2 separate regions of the Homo sapiens genome follow, and region 1 is linked to region 2. Evidence: fine-mapped expression QTL. A gene starts in region 2. The other region holds a variant in brackets. All regions are shown on one strand. Distances are from middle to middle.

Region 1 (8,000 bases), 83 kb after region 2:
AGGTCCACACACAATATATTTCCCCCCAAATAAATTAAAACATAGACCCTGCTCTAAAAAATTCTAGATGAGGTAAGTAAAGGTGTTAGGATCATCCATCTGATATCAAAAATTAAAAATTTAAAACTCAGCTGGGTGTAGTGGCATGCACATGTAGTCCCAGCTATTTGGGAGGCTTAAGGAGAAGTATCACTTGAGTCCAGGAGTTTGAGGATAGCCTGGGCAACATAGCAAGATCCTATCTCTAAATTAAAAAAAAAAATTAAAATCCTAAGTGGGTAAGTCTTCATTTTCAAAGGTCTTTTGACATTTTTATATAGTGAGTCTCTACTGGCTTACAAAGAAGAACCAGAGGTGGCAAGGATCCCCTCAGTATCATTTCCTCCTACTGACAATGGAAGTAGTGCAGGCTGGGTAGGCACTGATTCTAAGGGGGAGGTCCCCAAAGATAGGAACTATCTTATCCATCTGTGCACCCCAAATAAAGGTCCTGGCACAGAGGTGGTTTTGGTATCTGCTGAGTGAATTAAACATAATGAGATGCTTTTATTAAAGATACTGACTAATCATCTGCTCCAATTTCTTGAGGGAACAGTGGAAGAATCGGATCTCTAGAGTCCCTTTAAACTAGACTGGGCAAAGTCCCAGAGGACAATGTGGAGGGAACAAGAGGTGGGGAAGGGTAGGATGAGTTCACCTCTCCTCACCAACTGCTGGCTTACATCCTAGCAAGTCTCCTGGGGGCTTATTGAGTGTACACTGGATTACAAACTCAGTGGTCCAAGAGAGATGAAAGACAGCTAGCAGAGCTAACAGGCCAGAACACTCAGGCTTTGTATGGCCACCTGGCACAGCTCCTGCCCCCTCTCTTAGGTGAGGCGCTTCTATGTACTAGCTGCTGCATAGGTTGCTTCTCTTGTGAAGTATTATTATTATTTTAAAAGGAGACGGTGTTTCCCTCTCTCCCCCAGGCTGGGGTGCAGTGGCGTGCACATGAAGTCCTGGGTAACTTAATTCCTGGGTTCAAGCAATCCTCCCGCCTCAGCATCCCAACTAGCTGAGACTATAGGTGTGAACCCATGCCCAGCTAAGTTTTGATTTTTTTTTTTTTATAGAACCAGAGATCTCACTATGTCACCAATGCTGGTCTCAAACTTCTGGCCTCAAGAGATCCTCCTGCCTCAGCCTCCCAAAGTGCCGGGATTACAGGCGTGAGCCACCAAGGCCTCTTGTGAAGTTCCTGATGGGGTCAGAGAGAAGCAACTTGCGGAGTCACAAAGCTAGGAGGCTAAGCTGGGAATTCAATCCAAGTCTCTAAACACTATTCCCCACTGCCTCCTACAATTGCTTTTTCAGTTGTTCTTTATTTTTTTTTTTGTTTGTTTTGTTTTCCTTTGCTAATAAGGTAGTAACTGTTTCAGCCTTCTTGTGCTATAAACGAGGATTTGGGTTGTTAGGAAACAGATCAATGTGGTTTAGTGGCCTGAAACAATTGAAAGCCATTTGGGATCCCAATTAAACTCAAGGTCCTGCTTTAAATGTGTACAGGTTATGCCAATGAGTGAAGGGGCCTGGAAAGAACCAAAGATGCCTAAGGAGCATACGCTGTCTAAAAGGGCCAAATGCTACTCAGAGACTACTGATTACTGCCTTGTGGAAAAGTGGACCCAGCATCACCATATCTTTAGTTTAAAAAAGAGCCCCAAATCCAAATGTGTGGGAAACCTTTTGATCTTTAAAATATTGGCTCAAATGAAAATAAAAACAGAAACAAAACAATATGTGAGCTGGGGCATTACAACAAGCCTGTGGACTGGAAGTGGTCTTATTTGCCACCTTTGGATTCAGTTTGGTATATGACACTGAGTTTCATCTTCCTTATCCACTCTGTAGATGTAAGACAGGGTTATGAGTGGCAATGGGAGCCAGAGTTCCTCACCAAAAACACGCTTGTAGGCAGAGCAATGACTGAACCCTACCCTTACACTAGGTGCTTTGCACCAGGGCACAAAAGCCTGCTTCCAGACCCCACCCCCGGTCAAAGTGGGGCATAACTAGAACCGAATTTACCAGTTTGTTTCCCTTCTTTGGGGCTATAGTTTAAAAAAAAATGCCTTGTTGAAAATCCCCCAAAGTACCTAAAAGTCCTTTTCTTTTCTTTTGTCTGACACCTACAGTTGGAGTCATTTGGGCAAATGTTTAGTTGCTCTGAGTTTCTGTTTCTTCATCTGAAAAATGGAGTAATGATAATTATATCCTCCAGTTTGTTGATCAATATTTGTTAACCACCAGGCACAGGGGTACAATGGTGACTGACATGGCTCCTGAACTCGCAGAGTTCACAAATAAAAACAAATAATCACATCAATGGTCAATTCATCATATTTGTGCTAAACGCTGCGGAGAAATACAGGTGAGGTGGGAAGATTAGAAGTAAGGTATGTAAAGTGCCTGGCACAAATAAATGAATCAGCAGGTCAAGTAGTGGAGTAGGTAAGAACATGGTAGGAACCTAGATGTCAAAGAAATTGATGAAGCTTAGAGCTCTTGGCAAAGTTGTGTCCTTAATAAAAACTGAATGGTTGAGCCATCATCCAAGCTTTTTGGCATCTCTATGTGGCAGAGACCCTGAAGTATTCTATGGTCTGCTGAATGGGAAGAAGAGAAGACAACAGCTTTCCAGCTCTCCCTTCTCCCACTCTCCCTTTTTGGATAACAGCACTCCCACGGGGGTCCCAGAGTAGGCTGGTGGGGGAAGCAGCTTTGGGGTTGGAAGCTAGACCCAGTAGGGGTTGGGGGTCCAACCTGGGGAGTCTCCTACGGAAGTGTCAGCCTAGGATAGGAGATGGGGATGCGGATGAAGGTGGAGCTTCTGACACTCAGTAAGTGCTGACATTTTCATTAATTAAAAACCTTATTGTGATCTGAGACACAAAGGAAATCAGCATGAAAACTGGGTTACAATAAGCACGGGTTCTGGACCGATTCATTTTCTCTCTCATTCACCTAGTTATTTTTATTCTGTGTTAGCAAGGCCCTGGGCGAGGCGTGGAAGATCAGAGAAAGATGGCATAGCCTGTGTCCCTGTGGAGTTCACAGTCCAGGGCAGGCAACAGACATATCAACACAATGTTTCATCACAGAAAGGGGAGTGCTACCAGAGGGAGGCACAGAGGGCTGTGGGCACAGAGAGGGCACCTGACGCAACTGGGGAGGTCAGGGGAGGCTTTGTGGGAAGGTACCCCAAACGGCAACCCCACTCACATGCACAATTCCAGAGATTCTACTAGAAGGCTGTCAAGAGCCATGCCTTCTGGCTGCACCAGCCTCCCAGAGTCCCCTGCTGCCCGATGCAGTGTCTGCAGAGCCAAACGCATCTTCCGCCACGCCTCATCCTCATCCGGCGCCGCATCCGACCCTCCAAGACTCCTGCAGGAGCCTGCCTTCCTGGGCAGGCTCAGCCAAAAGACCAACTCAAAACTCTTTTGTCAGAGCAAGCTTAGGGAGAGCCACCCAGCCCCGAGTGCCACAACCCTCCCAGAGCAACCGTGGCCCATGTCACCCCCGCCTCTCAGTGAACTTTGGCAGGGTACCTCCCGTTATCTCCTTTGCTCAAAAGAAAGTGACCTTCTTCCAGGTGGCAAGCTGGAAGCTTTGGGGAATCCTCCTACTGTTCGCTCTCAGCAGGATTCTCCAAACCTGGGATCTCAAGGTCGGGGTGGGCTGCCTTGCGGAGCAGGGGAGGGAAGAAGGGCAGGTTCTGCTGGGTTTCCACCTCAGTGCAGAAACCCCACCAAAAACTCCTCCGGGCAGCCTGGCTGTCTGCTCCAACTGCTCTGCTGGGTATGGCGAGGAGGCGCCAGGAGACACAGCTGCTGAGGGGGCCGCGGCTGCAGGCGCTGCAGGGGACGGAGTGGAGCCGTTCCCGGGGGCAGAGGGAAGAGGCTGCAGTCGTCCAGTCCCAGAGCCCCGAGATGGCCTGTGGCTGAGGGAGCAGGT[G/A]GGCCCGGGGGAGGTGGCGGGCCGAGAGCGGAGCTGCGGCCTCGGGATCACAGCCCAGTCCCAGTCCCAGTCCCAGTGTGGGTGTACGGCCGGAACGCCCGGAGGCGGCGGGGAGAGGGGAGCAGCTTCAGCCTAGTCGCAGGAGCGCGGACCGAGCCTCGGCTTTGGGGAGAGGGGTCCAGCCTCCATTCCCGCCCCGGGGGAGAAAGCTTCGGCGCCGGACCCGGGGGAAGGCTGCTACCCCAGCCGCGGCAGGATGGCCCATCCCCAACCCCGCCCCACTCCCGCTCCCGCTCGGGGAAGGTGAAAGCGCCCGAGCCGCCGAAGTCTCCCCGCTCGCTCCTACCTGCGGGCCGGGCACCAGGTTGGGTTCGTCATCCTCCCTGGGGCCGTCGTGGTCGGGCTCCGCCGGCGCCTCCGGAGGGCCTGCACCCGCTCCCGCCTCCAGGCTTGGCGGCGGCGGGGGCTCGGGCGCCTGGGGCTTCTGCGGCCCCGCGGCCCGAGCCCGCTCGCGCCTGCCCGCACCGCCGCTCGGCCTGCTCCGCCTCCGCGTCATGCCGCCGCTCGCGCCGCTCCCTCGCTCCACACGCCGCCGCCGCCGCCGCCGCCGCCGCCGCCGCCGCCGCCGCTACCGCTCCCCTCACAGGACAACAGCCAATATGGCGGCGCCCGGTTCCCCCCCTCCGCCTGCTGCCAACAGGTCAGAGGGCACGCGGAGTCCGCGCCGCCGCACTAGCCCCCGAGGCCGCCTGCGCCATTTTGAATAAGGTCACCACCCGGAGTTCGCTGGGAGAAAAACTTGGTGGGGAGACGCCCTTCCCCCCCTACGCGGGACGGGAAGGATGCAACCTGCTGGAGGAACGCGTGTAATGCGGTGGTAATCGCGCTGCACCACCCTAGCACTTAATAATTGCCTGTTAAATGGATGAGTGAATTAATTTCTATAGTGTTACAATACTTTCACACCCATCGTCTGACTCCTTCCGACAGCACAGCGAGGCAGGTACGGATCATTCCCATTTTGCAGGTGAGAAATATTGAGGCAACATAAAGGCCTGGAAAAGGTTGCTGTACATCATTTTGTTGGAACTCCTGGGCTCGTGGACGGCCTGAGTTGAAAGGGACGAAGGTCTTTATTTGCAACATATGGTCTACTGGGAGTCCAGCGTTCTGTGCTTGGGACAGTGGGACTCAAACCCGACTCCTTGTTCCCGAGTCTGATGGGGAAGGTAGACACGTAGGTACATAGTTACAACCGGTGTGATAACGATGAGACGACTAGGTGTTTCCAAAAAAATAGTATGTGCAGGAGAGGATTTTGGAGTGGTACACAAAGGAGAATTTTTAAAACTTAATAATTATGTATTTAATTGTTAAAAATGGAATTTCCCCCCTCTTTTTGTGAATATACTGTATAATACATGTACATGGCACAGATTAAAAAAAAAAAGTTTTGAGTGAAGTCTGTCTCATGCCTGGGCTATGTACTCTGAAATTGTGGTTATATGCAGAGTTGCTATTGGTATCAACAGGGGCGGAATCCTGACACTGGCTTCCTAACCCATGGGGCAAGGGCTATTTTGAAAGGAAGAGCTACATGGAAGGCCCTGGAGCTCTCCTTAACTACCAAGAAAATAAATCAAAAATAGTACCTTATCTCACCCAGGGATTAATGCCACTATCAAAGATTTGAAAGACGCAGGGTGAGTCCCATCACATCACCATTACCTCTTCAGTTTGCCCAGAACAGAAGAGAGACGGCCTTGAAGAACAACAGAGCATTATGATAAACTTACTTATTCTGGTAAGAACCCCAACTGCAGGCATTCTTCCAGATGCGGTCCTTCTTGGGACAGATCAGCACAGTTGTTGGTCTCTAATAGGCAACAAGAGGTCTGGTCAATGGTTATTCTTCTGTACCAAACACCAGGAATCCCTTGCATTGATCTGGCAGGGGCAGCGGTAAACCCTCACTGTCTTGCTTCAGGGTATGTCACACTCTGGACCCAGCCACTTAGTTTACAGGGATTTTTTTTTTTTTTTTTTTTAATGACAGAGTCTCACTCTATCTCCCAGGCTGGAGTGCAGTGGCGCAATTTCAGCTCACTGCAACCTCCGCCTCCTGGGTTCAAGGGATTCTCGTGCCTCAGCCTCCAGATTAGCTGGGATTAGAGGCACATGCTACCACGCCCCCTAATTTTTTTGTATTTTTAGTAGAGACGGGGTTTCCCCGTATTGCCCAGGCTGGTCTCGAATTCTTGACCTCAGGTGATGCACCTGCCTCGGCCTCCCAAAGTGCTAGGATTACAGGCGGAGCCACTGCACCCTGCCAGTTTACAGGGATTTTTTTTACTAAATCTCCATTCTAATGGATATCAGGCTAATCTGCTGAGGCACTGATGACATCATCTTGATGGACCTTAAGAAAAGGGAATAGCAGATATCCTGGATGATTTGGTAAGGCATGATGTGTGTGCCAGAGGATGGATAATAAATCTCACAAATATATAGGGGCCTCGCAGTAAGCCATCTAGGAGTCTGGGATATGTTGAGATATTTCGTACAAAGTGAAGGGAAAGCTGCTGTAGATCACACTCCCTACTAGGGAAGAGGTGCAATACTTGGGCTGGGGCTTCTTTAGACTTGGTAGGTAACATAGATGTATTTCGATACATTATTATTATTATTATTATTATTATTATTATTATTATTATTATTATTATTTTGAGATGGAATCTCTGCCACCCAGGCTGGAGTGCAGTAGCGGGATCTCTGCTCACTGCAACCTCTGCCTCCCGGGTTTGAGTGATTCTCCTGCTGGCCTCCGGAGTAGCTGGGGTTACAGGCGCGCACCACCATGCTCAGCTAATTTTTGTATTTTTAGTAGAGACAGGGTTTCACCATGTTGGTCAGGCTTGTCTCGAACTCCTGACCTCCTGAACCTCCGGCCTCAGCCTCCCAAAGTGTTGGGATTACAGGCATGAGCCACCGCGCCCGGCCTGTACTTAGGTACGTTATTTTGACCAGTTACTGGGTCACTTGAAAGCTGCCAACTTTAAGGCAGGATCATACAAAAAGAGAAACTTTTCTTAGTGGACCAGGCTGCAGAGTAAATAGTTCTGGCTTTGGTCTTAATACTCAAGCATTGGATTTTGGAGCAAACTTATGCTTTCCTTCAGCAAATAGTTATATTCCATTTTAGAAATAGCTCCTGGCTTGCTTCAGGGGTCTGGTGAAATTGGATGCCTGATCCTGGCCTACTAGGTGACCACGTGACCTGAACTGAGTGTTATCTGATCTACTCAGCCATAAAATCAGGGGTGCTCAGCAACACCCTGTCATCGAGAGGAAGTGACATGTGTGGGTTGGGTCCATGCAAGTCCTAAAGCACAAGTAGGTTGCCAGAGCAAGTTACTTACATTCCTCTGCTGCCACCCTCTTCTCCATTCCATCCTTCAACCTGGATCAGTGGTTTCATGAACGGTTTAATGATGAGTTGACTAAGGAAGAAAAATCCAAAGTCCAGTTTGCAGATGGCTCTGCATGGTGTGCTGGCTCCAGCCAGAAGCAAATTGCTAGAGTGTTCTAGTCTTCCTCAGACAGGGCCCAAGGGCACAGAAAAGGGAAATCCACGCAAAGACCCTGAAATAAAGACACATCAATTCCTGGCCATTGGATCATGATTTACTCTGTTGTTGAGGGACTTGAGGGAAAAAAAGACTGCAGGCTTAGTGACAGGAAGTTCTGAGGATGACAGATGTGGAAAGATTGTCCAGAATGGCTTCAGAACATAAGGCTATTTGTGTCCCAGATGAACGTTCATCAAAAGAACCTCTTAAAAGTCCGATGGGCAGTATGGCCCCTTCTGTGGCTGTCAGACTGTCTCTTCCCAGCTATTTAAGAACTTATTCAATGGCTGCATGAGAAAACTGGCTCAGCAATTTGGACTGTCTCCTCCCTGAGGCTGGCTGACCTATCTACTCTCAGTGCTGAGTCCAATT
Region 2 (12,133 bases):
ACAACATGGATGAATCTTAAGGACATCATGCTAAGTGAAATAAGCCACACGCAAAAGGACAAACACCGTGCGATTCCACTGATAGGCAGTCTCCAGAGTAGTCAACTTCATAGAGACAGAAAGTGGAATGGTCGTTGCCAGGAGCTGGCGAGTGGGGAAGGGCAGAATTTGTGTTTAATGGATGGTGGTGGTGGTTATCCTACAATGTGAATGAATTTAATGCCGCTTAATGAAATGCAGATTTTAAAATGACTGAAATGGTACATTTTATGTATTTTGCCACAGTTACATACATGTGGCCAGGCGCGGTGGCTCACGTCTATAATCCCAGCACTTTGGGAGGCCGAGGCGGGCAGATCAACCGAGGTCAGGAGTTCAAGACCATCCTGGCCAACATGGTGAAACCCAGTCTCTACAAAAACACAAAAATTAGCTAGGCATGATGGTGTGCGCCTGTAATCCCAGCTACTCAGGAGGCTGAGGCGGGAGAATCGCTTGAACCTGGGAGATGGAGGTTGCAGTGAGCCAAGATCACGCCATTGCATTCTACCCTGGGCGACAGAGTGAGACTCCATCTCAAAAAAAAAAAAAAAAAATACATGAATCAACTTATGAAAAAAAGATCTTACCCAGCTCGTTCTCCACCATGTTCTTTATGTGGCAGGTGGCAGGTGTGTGTTGAATGAATGACTGAGGATGGAGCTTACCAGCCACACATCATCCCCACCCCATCCAAGGGCAGATGTGACTGGAGTGACTTAATGCTGCTGCCTGCAGGACTGTCTTGCCTCCTCTCTCTCAGCCTCCTGTGGGTGACTCCGGAGCCCGTTTGAGTCCCCACAGCCATGCATCTGCCCATTACAGTCCCAATCCAGATGAGTATCAACCCACCTCCCTTCCTGAACTGAGCCATGCTCAGTCCTGAATGACATTAGCTATTTCCAAAATACTAAATTCAAAGCATGGAGATGTGACTCTGCTGTGATTCTCAGGGACCAATCCACAGGACCTACGGGCCATTCCCAATGTGTGGAGATTCAGACAGTACCCCTGGAACAAAGGGGCTGCTCCCAGGGAGATGCTGCTCCCAAGGAGATGGTACACACTGCCTGCAGATGCTCAGCACTGGCCCAGGCTCACCCATGCCGCCTGCCTCACTCCTGTGGCCCCTCAGAGTGCAGAACAGTGTCTAATCGCCGAGAAACCCCAGGGCAGGGGAGGGGGAGCCTGGTCAGTGAGGGTCTGGGTCTAGATGGAGTTTCTCTTCCAATCTAGAGCACAAGCTTCTCCAAAGTAGTCTTTTTCCACGGCCAGAGGCCAGAGCCCCACGTGATGAGGTGCCAGGCCTCATGCTCCATGGCACCCTGTGCCCATGCAGCTCCCCAGAACAGCCACCACTGTCCCTGAGCCACTGATCTCCCCACAAGGCCCAGGAACACAGGGACCATTCTCACTTCCCTGACCCAGAGACCGGGAGCCTTGGCAAAGAACTTACAAAGATAGACTGCTCCTTCAACCGCCTCTTGGCCTCTTCCGCTTCTAAAGTCTGCTGTTTCCTCCTGGAACGATAAGCAGCCAGCACCCGTCAGGGTGCGCCCGGGGGCCCCTGGAGCGCTCCGGGCGGGCAGGCTCACCTGTGCTCCTCGATCTGCTGCTCCCGCTCCCGGTAGCGCCGCTCGCGCTCCTCTTGCTCCTGCCGCTCCTGCTCCATCCGCTCCTGCTCGAACCTGAGCCTCTCATCCAGGGCCTTCTTCCGCTCCTCCTCCTTCCGCAGCTCTTCTTCCTTCTGCAAGCCCCGGTGCGAACAAGGGTAGGCCCCGAGCCTAGGCGCCTGGACCCTGCCCCTCCAGCCCCTCCCTAACCCAGCGCTGGGGGCGGGGCACGTGGCATGGGCCATGCCACTGCAGTGAGGGACTCAGACCTGCCCCATGGGGTCCATGAGGGGTGGCTCAGCCAGGCCGGGCTCAGGGTTCCATACCTTGGCCTGCTCCCAGAACTGCTCTCGGTTAATCCGCTTCATTTCCACAGCTGCATCCGTCTTCTGGTAGGTGGTGCCCTGCAGTGTCGAAGGACCCAGCATAAGCAGGCTGAATGCCCCAGGAACCCCCGACACCTAAAGGGTGAGAGCTAAGAGGGACCGGGCAGGCCAGACTCGGGCACCAGGCCACGCAGGCAGAGCCCACGGGTGCCAAACACACACTAACCACGGGCTCTGCGTTCTCATCCTCTCGCAGCCGCAGTCGGTGCAGCACAGGGCTGGAGAGTCGCGCCAGCCCGTTAGAGAGCCGCTGCCCGATGGCACCCGCGTCTATGTCTTCCACGCTGCTGGCGTTCACGATCACGTCGACACCCTTCCGCAAGAAGACGGCAGTGCTCAGGCGGCACCATCCTCCCGCCATCCCCACCCCAGCACGCAGACCCTGGTGGCTGTCCCCACCCCCAAGAGCGCTGGCCCCTGACACGCACCTGGAAGAACTCCGCCACCTTAGCCACGTGGCTGGCACAAGCGCACTTGCGGGCATCAGGCACATCTTCGCCCACCTGCAAAGTACCCAGCAAAGAGGGGGTCAGGAAAGGACAAGGGGGGCCCTACACGATAGGGTGCATCTTCCCCGGGGTGGGAAGAGGGTGGGCTTCCCTCTCCACGGGTGTCAGAGGGCCGACGGGGAGGGCGACTGCTCTGGGCCTTCAGTTCCCTTCCCCAGCCCCGGCCGCATACCCAGTTGATGAGCAGCTCTGGGCCCTCAGCCCCCTTCCCCAGCCCCGGCCGCATACCCAGTTGATGAGCAGCTCTGGGCCCTCAGCCCCCTTCCCCAGCCCCGGCCGCATACCCAGTTGATGAGCACGTATTTTGGCAGAGCAGCTTGGGAGTCCTTGACACTGCAGAAGCCGTACATCACCTTCTGGTTCTCAAAGTGTCCCGAAAGCTCCTGCAAGCCCCCTTCTAGGGTAATCAGGAGAGTGTCAGGTCTCTCTGCCTCCTAAACCCTTCCCAAAAAGAGCCTGGAACTCAAAGCAAAGACTCCTCCAGGCCTCCACAGGCACCCCCAGGGGTCTTCTGGCCTCTGGGGTCTGTGGGTCCCAGTTTTGTGTTGGTATGTGTGGGGGTGGTGGCGCACAGGGATGTAGCTTTGCCTGTGACTCCTGCAGGGCCTGATTTGGGGGTAGGACTGAGGAAGTGTTTGTTCTTCACACTCAGGTCTCATTCTTCACACATCATCATGTCTCACCAGGTGCCAGTGCCCAGAGGCACAATCAAGCCTTCTGGCTCTGGGGAAGGCGGTGAATAGGGCCCTTCCCCCAAAGTGTCCCAGCTGTGTGGCTTCAGATAAGTCACTTTCCCTGTTGGAGGCTCAGCCTCAGAAGTCCAACATTCAACAAGGCTCTGAGATTCCTCCCCACCCTGGGGACACAGGGATGACTGGAGGAAGGACACCCGCCAGATCCAGACAAGTGTGGGGCTGCAGGGTGCAGGCAGGGAGGTGGCCTACAGCCAGGTGGGTGGGGAAGAAAACAACCAGGAGGAGGGGGTGGAGAAGGCGGCGAGGGAATGGCTGGAATTCCTACCTCCTGATGCTGCAAGCTTGAGGTCATCGGAGCCATCTTCATATGTGTACAGAGCCCTGGGGAGAGGGAGGGGTGGCTGTCAAACTGTCAGGGCCCAGGCCGCCAATTCTGGGTGGGGACGGCTCTGGGGAGGGAGAGGGACATGGAGTGGGTAGGACAGGAACGGGGAGGGCTCCTGCTGTAGCCATGACAACAGGGCCAGGCATCGGTTCAGGCGGGAGCCCAGCAGGGTACTGCTGGAGGCCTGGGTCAGGGGGGCGCAGGCAGTGAGGGGAGAAATTGCTGGCTGGTCGAGCTCAGTGCGCAGCATCCCGGCCCTGGCCCTGGCAGCCTACAACCCAGTGGAGCGGGTGTGTGATGGAGATTCCAAGGCGACGGTTCCTTGGTTACCGTTCCCTGGCTACCAGGATCCTCATCCCCCATTGGCTAGTGCCAGGAACTTACCTGGCACGTGCCTTGGTCCCCGCTGCCCCTCCCCCGGGGAGGGAGGAGGAGAAGAGAGAACCTGGTGCTCCCAACAGCTCTGGGCATCCCCCAGTAACCATGGCAACCCTGCAATTGGCACACGACTGGCCCACCCCAACTGCATTCTCCTTGAACACAAAGGACCCTGGGGACCCGCCCTCAGCCTCAATCTCCGCCTCTCTGAAATGGGGATGAGGTCACTGCAGTCACTCTCGCCCAGACTCTGGCCCCGGGGTGGCCAAGCCTGAGCTCCAGGCCTTCCAGCCCCTAGGCTGCCTCAGTCCTGGCTGAGGCTTCCTGAGACTGCTGGCCTTTCCTTCTGTCTGAGCTCTAACAGAAAGCTGACCTGGTGGCCTTCCTCCTTCCTCCTCCTCCCTAGCTTTGTGTGCCCTGGCTCCTTTTGATAGGCTGCGGTGACAGAGCAACCATTGCACAGAAGGGAAGGCAGAGATGCCTCCTCCATCACCCCATGCAGGCCCAGGCTGAGGACCCTCTGGGAGGGAGGAGAGCCGGGGCCTAGGAGGAAGGGCCTTGTCCCTGAAGTTTGAAAGGGCTCTCAACCCCTTCTCCAAACTCCTATTCCCCAGGTGCCAAGGCAGGAGGCTGGGGCTGTGAGGAGGGGAGGCAGAAAGGGAGGGCAAGGGAGAAGAGAAAGAGGAGGGGAGAAGCAGAGGGAGAAACCAGGAGAGGAGGAAGAAGAGAAAGGACAGAAGTGAAGGGACAAAGGAAATGAAGGCGGGAGGGATGGAGGGGACGTCTCAGGAGGTTGTGGCCAGGGCCAAATGGCCTCAGCCCCTCCCCTTCCTGGATTCCCGGCTTCCTACCTCCAGGAAGGAACACAGGTGGGCTGTGGGGCTGGGAGCTCCTGGTCCAACTGTTACCCCCAGCCCCAGCCTGGCCCTGACAGATGCTTCCAGCACAGCTGGCCCACCACCTGTCCTGCTGCCCTAACCCACCACGGGAACAAAGGGCCCTGGGAGAAGCAGGCTCTGTCTCTCTCCATGCACTGATGAGAAACTAATGCAGAGCCCAGGGACCCTAGTTCCTAGAGACTGCTGTAGACATCAAGCCTCCCTCTGAGAGGACCTGTCTTGGCCTGCCTAGGCTCCCCGGGGTGCCTTCCATCCTCAGCCCCTGGCTCCCCACCTCCGGCCACCTCTTCCTGCTCCAGCCGCAGCTCTCCCCCAGCAGAAACCATACCCCAGTTCAAACCCTCCAGCCTGCCTTTCCATTGGACCACCCTGTCCACACCACACACTTGGGACACACTGGACGGCTCCCTGACCCAAGCAGGGTTCTGGACAGGGCTCACCCTGAAGCCTCTGCCTATGTAGTTCTCTTCACGTGGAAGGCAAGACCTGCTCCTCTACCCCACGCCTATTCCCAGTGGAATGCTTCCGTTCTTCAGAGCCCAGTGCTGGCCCCCAGCAGCCTCTCCTGAGCTGCCCCTCCCAGAGCACCCACCATATCCCAGCAGGAATACAAAGACCAGTGCTTCTCAACCACATCAGAGGCACCCCGAGCCTGGTGGTGCACCAGGTGGAAGCTGGCGAAACCACAGGGAATCAGGATGGGGTAGGCGACCAGGCATCTACACATCTCACCAGCTCCAACTCCTGGAGACAGACACTGCCCCCAGCTGTAAGCCTGGTGAAGGCAGGAACGCTGACTCAGTCAATCAGCACATCCTGCTCTCTGGGTCCTGGGGTCCAGCACACCGCATACCAGAAGTATGTGTGATATTGACACCAACTCAAAAGCCATCTAGCCAGATAAACTGAACTAGCGTGAGGTGGGAGCTGGAATGTGGCAGTTCCAGAGACCCTGGGGTGAGCTGGGATGGGGGGTGAGCTGGGGTGGAGGGTGAGCTGGAGTCGGGGGCTGAGGGCAGGTGGACCCCGCAGGACCATCACTCTCAGGATGGTGGTGCTAGAAAGGCCTTCAGTATCCGAGGTAGTGCTGGGCCCAATCCCTTTTCTTTCCAAGAGGACCAGGAACTTGTGTATGATCACAGTGAGTCATATCACAACCAGGACAACAGTGGCCCTTCCCACCACACAACCTCATTTCCTGGGTCCCCTGCTCCCTGTGCCAGAGTAGTGGTGCACTTCAGAGGCCCTGCCACCTAGGAGTGAACTCCCCCAACCACCCCTCCCCATTGGAGGCAAGGTAAGGGTCGGGGGGCAGACAGCAATTTACCCAAGACACCCCTCCCTCTGGACCTATGTGCAGGGTCTGCCTCTGAGTCTTCAGACCTCACTGCACCCCTGGTTCCATGCTGGGCCCTGGGGTATTCATATTCTCTTGTGTAGAAAGTGATCCTCACACCCCTTTTTCAAAATGTTATCTGGGCCCTTAGTGAACGAATGTGTGCATGTGCGAGGGTACATGTGTGCATCTGTGTGTGTCCCACACACAACCCAGATGGGGGCTGACGCACACCAGTGATGAATAACTCGCTTTGGCCACACGGATGCTGCTGGGGTGGGTGGGGGCAGGCCTGTGTTGAGCAGGATGTGGGGCAACAGGGGTTGTGTGGCCTTGGCAATAGGCCACCAGAGCTCTGCTTTTAGGAGAAAATGGGGTGTTGGTAGACAACACCCCTCCAGGCTGGAGGGCAAAGGAGGTGTTCTGGGGTGAGCTGTGCTTCTCCCCAGGCGGGGCCTTATCCCAAAGCCAGCTCCTTCACCAGGCCAAGCCGGCCACTTGCCCAGAGCTCCTCCCATGATCTCAGCCCCCCTGGGGCAGGGCTGGGACAATGGGTGGGCCGCCTGCCTGCTGAGCCTGTGCCGGCCTCTCCTGTGACTGACCTGCAGGACACGAGAGCTTGTCTCTCGCGTCCATCCCTCCAGGCCTGGCTGCTGGCCAGTGCTGCAGTACCATGCCATGGATGCCCAGCCATCTCATCCTCTCCTCCAGAAGCCCCCAGGTCAGAGTCCCCACCTGGCTGCCCTCCCAGTGTGCGGGTGAGGCCAGCCCAAGCGGGGTCCCTCAGACCTGCCCTCCTCTTTGCCTCAGTTTCCTCAAGAAGAACCTGTTCCCATCTGCCAGCAGGGAGAGGAGGCCTAGGAACCAGATGGGCACCTTCCCTAGAAGAAGAGTATTACGGGGGGGTTAAAGGATTCCAGGATGGGGCTGTGAGGAACCCCTCGGTTTCCTTTTTCCACCACCCTGGGCCGCCAGCCCCAGAGCAGGTGGTCCATCCCCTCCCCCAGCTCAGCGGGAGACAACAGCTGGGGGGCGGGGTGAGGGGCGGCCCAGCTCCTCCCCCATCAGGGACCGAGTGCCCCTTGCTGGGGGCCGGTGGATCTGTTCACCCCTTCAGCCGTCTTTGGGGGCTCCCTCCACACTTGTTCTCCAGAGGGCTTCCTCCCAGGGATCTCAGCTGGCCCCTTAGGCAGCTCGGTGCCCCCCAGCCCAGCTGCCTAGTCCCCGCAGTCCCCTTCAGGTAGGGGAGGAGAGCTCACCCCTGCCTCCTCCGCGACCCGCGGCGGTAAGGGAGTCACTTCGCGGTCGCCATGTGGCAGCAAACATCCTTCCACCTCACTCCAGCCCAGGTTTCGGGGGGAGGGCGGCCCACTCCGAGAGGCCCCCCGGTGGGCGGGGCGCCCGGCCCCCAGCCCGCTCCGCTCCTCCCCCGCCCTCGCTTTCCTTTGTGCTGTGGCCGGGCCGGGCTGAGCCGGGCAGGCTGCGCTGGCTCCGCTAGCTCGGTCCCCGCCCCGTCCCCGCCCGGACCTCGCCCGCTCGAAGGTGGCGAAGGTGCCCTTGGCCGCCCCGTGCACACCTGTCCCCCGGGCCCGGGGGGTAGGGTGGGGGATGGGCTCCCGCAGGGCCACGCGGCCCCGGGCCCCACATCGGGACCCCGCGCCTCCGGGCCGCGTCCGGCCGCCGCTCCCACCGCGCGCCTTGGGCCGCCTCCGGGCGCTCGGGGCCCGGCAGTGCCCCGCCTGGCCCGCCGGCCCCTCCCCCGGCGCGCACAAAGGCAGCCCCTCCCGGCCCTCCCGGCCCGCTGCACCATTTCGGGGTCCCCCTCCCTTCCCGGCGGCGGGGCGGCGGGGCGGGAGAGAAACAAAGGCGCGGCGGCGGCGCGGGGACAAAGGGGCCGGGGGCGGGGGCGGGGGGCTCACCAGTCGGCCGCGCTCTCCTCTCGGATCACCTCCTCGTAAGCCGCCAGCAGCTCCAGGCGGTGGCCGCTGAAGCTGACGCCGGCCATGCTTCGGGCCGGACCGGGCCGAACGGACAGACGCGCGGACGGACGGGCGGACGGAGGAGGAGGGAGGGAAAGAGGGAGTCGCCGCCGCCGCCTCGGAGCCTCTGCAGCGTCGCGAGCCGAGCGAGCCAGCGGCCGGGGGAGGGGAGCCGGCCGGCGGGGGGCGGGGGGCGCTGGCTCCGCCCGGCTCGCTCCCTCCGCTCGCTCGGTCCTAGCGCCGCCCCGGCCCGGCCCAGGGGGAGGCCCGCCCCCCCTTCCCGGCCTGCCCCGGGCGCCCCTCACCCACCGCCCCTGCGCGCCGCTCCAGGGCCAGCCCCACCCACGTCCCGAACCCTCACCTGCCCCGTCCGTAACCTCGGCGCTAGCCCTCCTTCCAGCCCCGAACCCAGTCCCGTCCCCACCTCCCCCCGCCCACCCCCCGTCCCAATCCGGTTCCGCCCCACCCATTGCTTCATTGATCTCCATTCCTGGTGCGTCCCACCTCATGTTAAACCCATTTTCATCCCAACCCAGCTCACACAACACCCCACCCCTGGCCCGTCTCCTTTCCCTGAGAGGTCCTTGCCTAGTCTATCCCATCATATCCACTGTCATCTGCATCCCACCCTCAAATCCACCCCAGTTGCTTTCCCATCCCAGCTTCAGCCCCATGCTTAGCACGTGTCCCCCCCAACATGTGTCACGGCACATCTTCAGTCCAACCCATCCCAGTCTCATCCTGATCCCAGTTCCCAATTCCCAACCACAGCCCCCCATCTCGGCTCCATGACCACTTATTCCAGGCCATTCTCAGCCCCTACCCAGCTCATTATCCCTCCATTCCAGGCCTCTCCTCCCCTCCACGCCTGTGCCCTCTCAGATGGGGCCAGCTAGGAGATCCTTTGCATTCTCTCTCAAGCCTCACGCCTCCCAGAGGAGTCCCAAGTAGAGTTCCGGAAGCAGCATCTAACCCCAGACTCCCACGGCAGGGCTCCTCCAAGGACGCTCAGGGCCAGCCTCTTGGCACCTTTATCTCCTAAAGCTCTAAGCACAGAACGGGAGGGGGCCTCAGAAAAGTACCCCCTGCAAGGGAGTGGACACCATGCCAGGGCCTTCCAGAACTCCGTTCCTTGCTAGGTTGGGACCCTGAAACCGTCCACAGCGCTTAGAAGCCTTTTCCACCACTACAAAGCCTCCAACCTCGACCTCCCTGAGCAAACTTCACCTGGTCCCAACCGCACCGCGGAGGAGGAGGTGGTTCTAGCCAGGCCTCCGAGTTCTGCGTTGGGTAATTGGCTATGCCAAGAGAAGGAGAGCAGGGCTGCCTATGTGGCAGTGTTCCTGGCGCTTTGGAGTTGGGAGAACCCTCTTAAAACTCAAAATACTCACAGGCCCCTGCCTTGGGAAGTCAGTGCCCACTATGTCTAGGGACCACAGGCCATGGCAATTTCTCCATGGCCACCACTAGAGTGAGGCACCCAGGCAGGGACACAGCCAGGCCCTGTGCCCTAGACCAACTGGCCAGTAGGTGTGGTTGGCCTGCCATGGGGATCCCTAAGGGAGTGGGTGACACATGGTGGGGAAGGGAAGTGGGGAGAGCCATGGAGGGACAGAGCTTCAGCCATCCCCCACCCTTAGGCATGAAGAGCCTGATTCTGGTGAGGAGGGAGACCCTGCAGCCGGGGAGGGGCAGCAGATGGCTGGCCATGAGCATCTGTGGCCTCAGCCTCTTCCAGCTTCCTTTGATTTGTCCTAGCTCACAGCTCCTCGCCCCCCCCGCTCCCCTCACCCCCCAGCCTCCTGCACACTCAATTTTGCATCCAAAAAACAGAAGCCCTAAATGCATCTAAGCTCTTCCTTCCTCAAATTCCTGCCTCCCCACCAGCCACCTACAAACTCTCCAGCCACGCCCACTCTCACCTCTTGCCATCAACATTTTTAAATAAACTTTCTATTTTAGAACAGTGTTAGATTTACAGAAAAGTTACAAAGATAGTATAGAGAGTTCCCATACACCCTGCACTCAGTTTTCCCTATTTTCAGGGAAGCAAGGGTGTTCCCTGCTGGCATGCCCTAGAGCCCACTCCCCTGGTCTCCGCACCCGTCACCCTTCCAGGTTATCTTCATCCCCTCATTTCTATAGGATGCAGACAGACATCTGTCCTCTGTCTCCTCCTCCCCGCATTTTCTCTGGCACTGCTCTGGCCAAGGTCACCAGTAACCCCTAACTTGCCAAACTCAGTGGACCCATAGTTCTCAGTTGCCCTGACTGGTGGGAGTGGGTGGCCACTGGTCACTGTCCTCTGAGAACCTGCCTCCTTTCAGCTGCTGTTGCCCCTGAAGCCCACACACTCAGCCTTGGTGGGTGGGAGGCTGGTGGGTTCCTCCTACCAGGACTTCGTGTCTGCCACCCCCAAACCGATCACCCTTCAAGTCACTGACAGGTCGGTCTCTCCCACCCCCAGAGCATGAGCTCCCCCTACACACAGCGGGAGGCTGGGCCAATGACTTCTGGATCCCCAGAGTGGAAAAGATGAGACAAGGGAGGACTGAGATCCAGAAACTGGGCCTTTGCTGTGTGACCTTGGCTGAAACACTTCCCCTCTCTGAGTTTCCTTTTGATAACCTGTTGTGAGAATAAAATGGGACTGGATGGAGGCTTAGAAGGAGAACCCCCTCCCTCCCTCCCTCCTCACAGCCCCACCCTCCTCCCTCCACCCCCACCTTCCTGTTCTGTGCTCCCCCACACCTCTCCGGGAAGGTTTTAGGGCTGAGGGGAGGCTGCAAGACTTTTTCAGCAAGAGCTGGTGGAGTCTTCTCTGGCCTCTTCCAACCTCTGCAAGATCCCACCAAGCACACACACAGATTGCCCCTTGATCATCACAAAGCTCATGGCTGTTCCCAGGTATCTGCCCCCGGCGCCGGGCCAGCCACGTTCATTCACATTAGCTCTGCTCCTGAGGAGTCTATTGCTAATGGTGTGACCTTGAGCTTGGTGCCTGACCTATCTTGAATCACTCATCTTCAACTGTAATATGGGGGTGATAGTGATGGTACCTACCTCCTAGGGTCAGTTTGAGGATTTTCAAAAAGTATCTAGGAAGTGCTTAAAATGAGACCAGGACATAGTAGGTGCTGTCAATGTGTTGATTGTTATTATTAGTTTACAGATGGGAATACTGAGGCCCAGAGAGAGTCAGTGACTTGCCCGGAGACACACAGCTTTGTGTCCCATTCAGACACAAAGTCTGAATGGGAACCCAGGTCTGTCCCAGGTCATTTCGGTACCCCACACACCCTCCCCGCTTCCCCTTGTAGCACCCCTATTTCTGCATGCAGGGGTGAGGTGGGCTGGAGTCTGATCAGAAGTTGCAGATGCTCCAGCTCTGAGGTCTGGGAGTGGAGTCGGGGGCGGGGCCCTGGGCATGAGGGGAGGAAGTGCCATGGACCTCCCTGCCAGGCCTGCTCCGCCTCCCGTTTTCTGGCAGACTTTCCACTTTCAGCTCTAAACAGGAGTATGTCGTCCAAGCCAGGAAGGGTCAGACCCAGTGACTACTTCAGAGACAGACACATGACCCAAGTTAGTCCAATGGGCGTTGGCCCTCGGACTTTCGCTGGCGCCATTAAGAAAGCCTCCCTTGCCGGGAGCGGTGGCTCACGCCTGCAATCCCAGCACTTTGGGAGGCCGAGGCGAGCAGATCACGAGGTCAAGAGCTCAAGATCATCCTGGCCAACATGGTGAAACCCTGTCTCTACTAAAAATACAAAAATTAGCTGGGCCTGGTGTTGCATGCTTGTAGTCCCAGCTACTCAGGAGGCTGAGGCAGGAGAAACGCTTGAATCCGGGAGGCGGAGGTTGCAGTGGGCTGAGATCACACCACTGCACTCCAGCCTGGGCCACAGGGCGAGACG

Evidence for each region.
Region 1: its variant is fine-mapped to the expression of DBN1 in whole blood (INTERVAL, PIP 0.97).

Annotation. Positions count from the first base shown.
Region 1 is chr5:177,549,904-177,557,903 of GRCh38, forward strand. It overlaps FAM193B (family with sequence similarity 193 member B), which reads right to left and starts at 4,660. Exons shown (of 9, transcript NM_001190946.3): 1 at 4,346-4,660. The coding sequence starts at 4,555. FAM193B-DT (FAM193B divergent transcript) reads left to right here and starts at 4,725. Exons shown (of 3, transcript XR_941274.3): 1 at 4,725-5,026. RefSeq lists silencers at 3,829-3,938, 4,269-4,478, enhancers at 4,359-4,862, 4,589-4,748, 4,769-4,918 and a cis regulatory region at 7,081-7,527. The variant G/A (reference allele first, on the strand shown) is at 4,000.
Region 2 is chr5:177,465,277-177,477,409 of GRCh38, forward strand. It overlaps DBN1 (drebrin 1), which reads right to left and starts at 8,358. Exons shown (of 15, transcript NM_001363541.2): 1 at 8,160-8,358; 2 at 3,568-3,623; 3 at 2,832-2,944; 4 at 2,467-2,541; 5 at 2,205-2,351; 6 at 1,979-2,056; 7 at 1,635-1,786; 8 at 1,496-1,559. The coding sequence starts at 8,245. RefSeq lists enhancers at 1,824-2,369, 2,916-3,461, 5,100-5,645, 7,216-7,719, 7,720-8,221 and 1 more and silencers at 7,370-7,556, 7,476-7,845, 7,876-8,075, 8,156-8,535, 8,546-8,595.